2 separate regions of the Homo sapiens genome follow, and region 1 is linked to region 2. The links come from fine-mapping of genetic effects on gene expression. A gene starts in region 2. The other region holds a variant in brackets. All regions are shown on one strand. Distances are between the middles of the regions.

Evidence for each region. PIP is the estimated chance that this variant, and not a neighbour inherited with it, causes the effect.
Region 1: its variant is fine-mapped to the expression of RASSF1-AS1 in T cells (TOPMed, PIP 0.92).

What each region holds. Positions count from the first base shown.
Region 1 is chr3:50,881,175-50,884,082 of GRCh38, forward strand. All of the region lies in intron 3 of DOCK3 (dedicator of cytokinesis 3), which reads left to right. Among named protein-coding and RNA genes, the nearest start is that of MIR4787, 210 kb to the left of the region's middle. The variant A/C (reference allele first, on the strand shown) is at 1,317.
Region 2 is chr3:50,336,168-50,339,075 of GRCh38, forward strand. RASSF1-AS1 (RASSF1 antisense RNA 1) reads left to right here and starts at 1,344. Exons shown (of 1, transcript NR_109831.1): 1 at 1,344-2,133. It overlaps RASSF1 (Ras association domain family member 1), which reads right to left. Exons shown (of 6, transcript NM_007182.5): 2 at 1,738-1,844. RefSeq lists silencers at 748-1,057, 1,128-1,307 and enhancers at 1,379-1,950, 1,778-2,037, 2,118-2,207.

The sequences.
Region 1 (2,908 bases), 550 kb after region 2:
TGAATGGGCAAAAACTGGAAGCATTCCCTTTGAAAACTGGCACAAGACAGGGATGCCCTCTCTCACCACTCCTATTCAGCATAGTGTTGGAAGTTCTGGCCAGGGCAATCAGGCAAGAGAAAGAAATAAAGGGTGTTCAATTAGGAAAAGAGGAAGTCAAATTGTCCCTGTTTGCAGATGACATGATTGTATATTTAGAAATCTCAGCCCAAAATCTCCTTAAGCTGATAAGCAACTTCAGCAAAGTCTCAGGATACAAAATCAATGTGCAAAAATCACAAGCATTCCTGTACACCAGTAACAGACAGAGAGCCAAATCATGAGTGAACTCCCATTCACAATTGCTTCAAAGAGAGTAAAATACCTAGGAATCCAACTTACAAGGGATGTGAAGGACCTCTTCAAGGATAACTACAAACCACTGCTCAACGAAATAAAAGAGGACACAAACAAATGGAAGAACATTCCATGCTCATGGGTAGGAAGAATCAATATCGTGAAAATGGCCATACTGCCCAAGGTAATTTATAGATTCAATGCTGTCCCCATCATGTGACCAATGCCTTTCTTCACAGAATTGGAAAAAACTACTTTAAAGTTTATATGGAACCAAAAAGGAGCCCGCATTGCCCAGACAATCCTCAGCCAAAAGAACAAAGCTGGAGGCATCATGCTACCTTATTTCAGACTATACTACAAGTCTACAGTAACCAACACAGCATGGTACTGGGACCAAAACAGAGATATAGACCAATGGAATAGAATAGAGCCCTCGGAAATAATACCACACGTCTACAACCATCTGCTCTTTGACAAACCTGACAAAGACAAGCAATGGGGAAAGAATTCCCTATTTAATAAATGGTGCTCGGAAAACTGGCTAGCCATACATAGAAAGCTGAAACTGGATCCCTTCCTTACACCTTTTACAAGAATTAATTCAAGATGGATTGAAGACTTAAACCTTAGACCTAAAACCATAAGAACCCTAGAAGAAAACCTAGGCAATACCATTCAGGATATAGGCATGGGCAAGGACTTCATGATTAAAACAACAAAATCAGTGGCAACAAAAGCCAAAATAGACAAATGGGATCTAATTAAACTAAAGAGCTTCTGCACAGCAAAAGAAACTACCATCAGAGTGAACAAGCAACTTACAGAATGGGAGAACAGTTTTACAATCTACCCATCTGACAAAGGGCTAATATCCAGAATCTACAAAGAACTTAAACAAATTTACAAGAAAAAATCAAACAACCCCATCAAAAAGTGGGCAAAGGCTATGAACAGACACTTCTCAAAAGAAGACATTT[A/C]TGCAGCCAACAGACACGTGAAAAAATGCTCATCATCACTGGCCATCAGAGAAATGCAAATCAAAACCACAATGAGATCCCATCACACACCAGTTAGAATGGCGATCATTAAAAAGTCAGGAAACAACAGGTATTGGAGAAGTTGTGGAGAAATAGGAGCACTTTTACACTGTTGGTGGGACTGTAAACTAGTTCAACCATTGTGGAAGACAGTGTGGAGATTCCTCAGGGGTCTAGAACTAGAAGTAACATTTGACCCAGCCATCCCATTACTGGACATATACCCAAAGGATTATAAATCATGCTGCTATAAAGACACATGCACACATATGTTTATTGCAGCACTATTCACAATAGCAAAAACTTGTAACCAACCCAAATGTCCATCAATGATAGACTGGATTAAGAAAATGTGGCACATATACACCATGGAATACTATGCAGCCATGAAAAAGGATGAGTTCATGTCCTTTGGAGGGAGATGGATGAAGCTGGAAACCATCACTCTGAGCAAACTATTGCAAGGACAGAAAACCAAACACTGCATGTTCTCACTCATAGGTGGGAATTGAACCATGAGAACACTTGGACACAGGGTGGGGAACATCACACACCAGGGCCTGTCGTGGGGTGGGGGAATGGGGGAGGGATAGCATTGGGAGATATACCTAATACAAATGATGAGTTAACAGGTGCAGCACACCAACATGGCACATGTATACATATGTAACAAACCTGCACGTTGTGCACATGTACCCTAGAACTTGAAGTATTAAAAAAAAAAGGCCATTTTGCTAGATATCTGTGAATGGCAAATAATCACGCACAAGGAGAAGTTTTTTCTTTATAAAAAAAAATGTTTGCTTCAACCATCAAACCTAATTAAGAAAATTCAAGAGAAAAATGAATGTCTATTATATTTACCCATGGGTTTGCTTACATTTTTTGTTTTTTCTTAGTGTAGTTCCATGGTTTTTTGTTTTATCATTTTCTTTCTGCTTAGAGAATTTTCATTCACTACTTTTTTTTAGGGTATTTCTGTTGATGACAAATTCTTTTTGTTTTCCTTCATCTGAAAATGTTTTGATTTGTCTTCCATTCCTGAAATGTATTTTTGGTAGATATAATATTCTAGATTGACAGTGCTTTTCTTTCAGCATTTGACAAATGTGCCACTTCCTTCTGTCTTCTATATTTTCATTGAAAATTATAGAAATTTGTATTTTAAATATTTTATACTTATTTTTCAAAAATCTAGAATGTAAAATACACATAACGTTTACCATGAGTGACATTTAGTACATGCATAATGTTTTACAAACATCACCATTATTATGTTTCAAAATGTTTTCATTTCCACAAACAGAAACTTCCAAGCCCATTAAGTGGCCATACTTTTTCATCCTCCTGCTGCTGACAACCATATGACTTCTTTCTGTCTCTGTGTATTTGCCTATTCTGAATATTTCATGTAAATGAAATTATATAATAGGTGTCTTTTGCATCTGCCTTCTTTCATTCAGCATAATGTTTTCTGAGTTCATTCATGTACGTTCCTTTTTATGGCTGAATAAGATTTCACTGCAAGTATA
Region 2 (2,908 bases):
TCAACTCAACCCTTGCACCCAAGCTCTGGGCTAAGATTTTGGCGTGCTGAGCACCACCCATTTTGTAAGGAATTTTGTAAAATTTTATCTGAAGCATCACTCACAACTCCACTTTCTTTACTTAAATAAGGATTTCCGCCCCATTTCTGCCAGGCATACTGAGCTTCACAGTCCCTGTTTCTTTTTCCTGGTGCCTAGGCCTGGTTCTCTGAGCCTGGTGGTCACACCAATGGCATCTGGCACACAGTTCTCCGATAATGGGGATACCTAGGAGGTTCCGAGACACCTTACAGTCCTGGGTTAGTAACCTGGATCTCTTTTTCCACCTCTTTAGGCATTTTATAATCTAGCTTTCCCCCTTCCTGTGGGTAAAGTGCTCCTGAATGCTTATGGTCCAAAACAAGACTTCTTTCCTATCTATTCCCAAATCTTTCTCCAGATCCACCCTAGAGGAAGGGAACAGAATCTTCCACATTCCAGCAGCTGGTGACAGGCCAGAACAGGGAAGAGGTGAGGGCTCAGCTGGCTCCATACAGGAGTGCAGATGGAGGAGCAGGATCTCTCTCTGCCTCTCAAGTTTTCCTAAACATACTTCTCAATTCCTGGCGAGGACTCTTCCCTCTCCACATCCTCCCCTAGTCTCCCCAAGGAGGGAGCAGGAGCATTCGAACGCGGAAATCGAGGTGCTAGTCCAAACTGCTCGGTCGGCTTTAGTCATAGCTGGATAATGCCCGGCTCAGGTCTACCACAAGCCATACAGCTGCTTTTTCCGTGTTCAACCTGTCTGTGACAGAAACCAAGGGGGCCCCGGCACCCAGCATCTAGGCGGTGGAATCGGGGTCTTACGCACGGTTCCGCGGGCAGGTCCCCGGCCAGGACCCGCGGGGAGCCACGTAGCCAGGAGGGTGGGGCTGCCCACCGACCCAGGACGCGGCAACGGACCGGGGAGGGCGGAGCTCCAGCGACCGCTTCCCCTCCCGCCCGCCGGCACCCCCTGGCTCCCACCTGGTCCCGGCGCGGCCTGCGAGCTAGCGAGGTTCGCGCGGTGAAGTACTGCTCGAGCTCCGAGTCCGAGTCCTCTTGGCTGCAGTAGCCACTGCTCGTCGTGCTGCTCCAGGTCATTTCGAAAGAAGGCGCCTCCGCCTCGCCCATAGCCGTACCCGCCCGTCCCCCAGTCCTGCGCGTCCGTAGCCGCCAACCACCGCCCCGGTCGCGTGCGTGCGTGTACGCGTGTCAGTGTGCGCGTGCGCCCGGGCCAGAGCCGCGCCGCAACCGTTAAGACTGAAACGTAGATCGCCGGGATCTAGCTCTTGTCTCATTGGGGCAGGAACGCCGGGGCGGGGACACGCACGCTTCGCCCCCAGGAATGACCTCATCGCTCCGGAGCTCCACTCACAGACCCCACCTACCACAGGGAACGGGGGCGGGTGCCAGCGTCCGGGCAAGCGCACAAGAGTGGCCTCTGGCCGGAGGCGAGGGCGGGAAGGTGCGGGAAGTGCGCGTGCGCGGAGCCTGGGTCAGCCTGGGCCCGGGTCCGCTTGCAGCGGGTGGAGTACTTGCGGAGCCGGCAATCCAGGCTCCCCTCCCAGCCCCCGCGCAGAATTAGCCTCTCTGTGCCGCCGGGAAATCGGCAATTAGAACGCTCCTTGCGCGCGGCACCCAGGCAGCCCTCGAGAATGCCTGCACTGTGGCCTGCCCATCCTCGCCCTTCCCATACGCCCTCGGCCCCGCGCTCACCACGTTCGTGTCCCGCTCCACCGCGGGTTCCCAGCCCAGGTCCCGGGGCCCGCAACAGTCCAGGCAGACGAGCGCGCGGCAGCGGTAGTGGCAGGTGAACTTGCAATCTGCAGAGAGGCCTGGCGGTGAGGCGGAGGAGCTCCAGGTCGGGGAAATGTCCCGGAGATTGAAGGGAAGCCCCAGGGAGAGGGCCGCTGCTCGCCAGGCTCCGCAGGCCCGACCTATCTCAGTGGGTTACCTCACACTGCTACGCGGACTCTAATGTTGGCCACCTGGGCGTCTGGAAACCGGCCGGAAGGCCACAGGCAGAGAGGCCTGCTCAACAGTTGGATCTCTATCGCCTAGCACAGAACTTCCCCTTTCCTCATTGGCAATTAAAAAAACAACAACAAAAAACTGCGTCTTGCTTTTGTCACCCAGGCTGGAGTGCAATGGCGCGATTTCGGCTCACCGCAACCTCCGCCTCCTGGGTTCAAGCGATTCTTCTGCCTCAGCCTCCTGAGTACCTAGGATTACAGGCGCCCGCCACCATGCCCAGCTAATTTTTGTATTTTTAGTAGAGACGGGGTTTCACCATGTTAGCCAGGCTGGTCTCAAACTCCTGATCTCAGGTGATCCACCCGCCTCGGCCTTCCAAAGTGCTGGGACTACAGGCTTGAGCCACCGCACCCGGCCCTTCACTGGGAACGTATATGGAATACATCTGCCCATTTACTTGAAGGAAAAACTAAACACCTTTAACCTACGTCTGCCCTGTGGTTGTCACCTGTCTCTACTCCCCTCAGACCAAGACACTGGTCTCTATACACTCTAATCCTTCGCCTTCACTCTCCCCTCTACCCACTCCAGCCAGGCTTGCCTCTTCCTCCAGGAAACTGCCCGGGACAGGGTCCTCAGCGATCTGTGTACTACCAAATGGAATCCAGTGTTCCATTCTCCATTCTCACCCCCTCAGCATCATTTGAAGCTTGCTCCCTTTGACTCCCAGGGGCTACACTCTCCCAGTTTTCCTCCTACCCCCTGCAGCTCCTGCTCAGCTCCTTTGCAGATTCTGACTCAACTTCCATATCTCACGATGAAGTCTGGGCTCAGTCCTGATCACTGGCCTGGTCTGTCTACATTCATCTGCCCCAGATCCACGGCTGAAACACTGACCTAAACCCTCAGACTA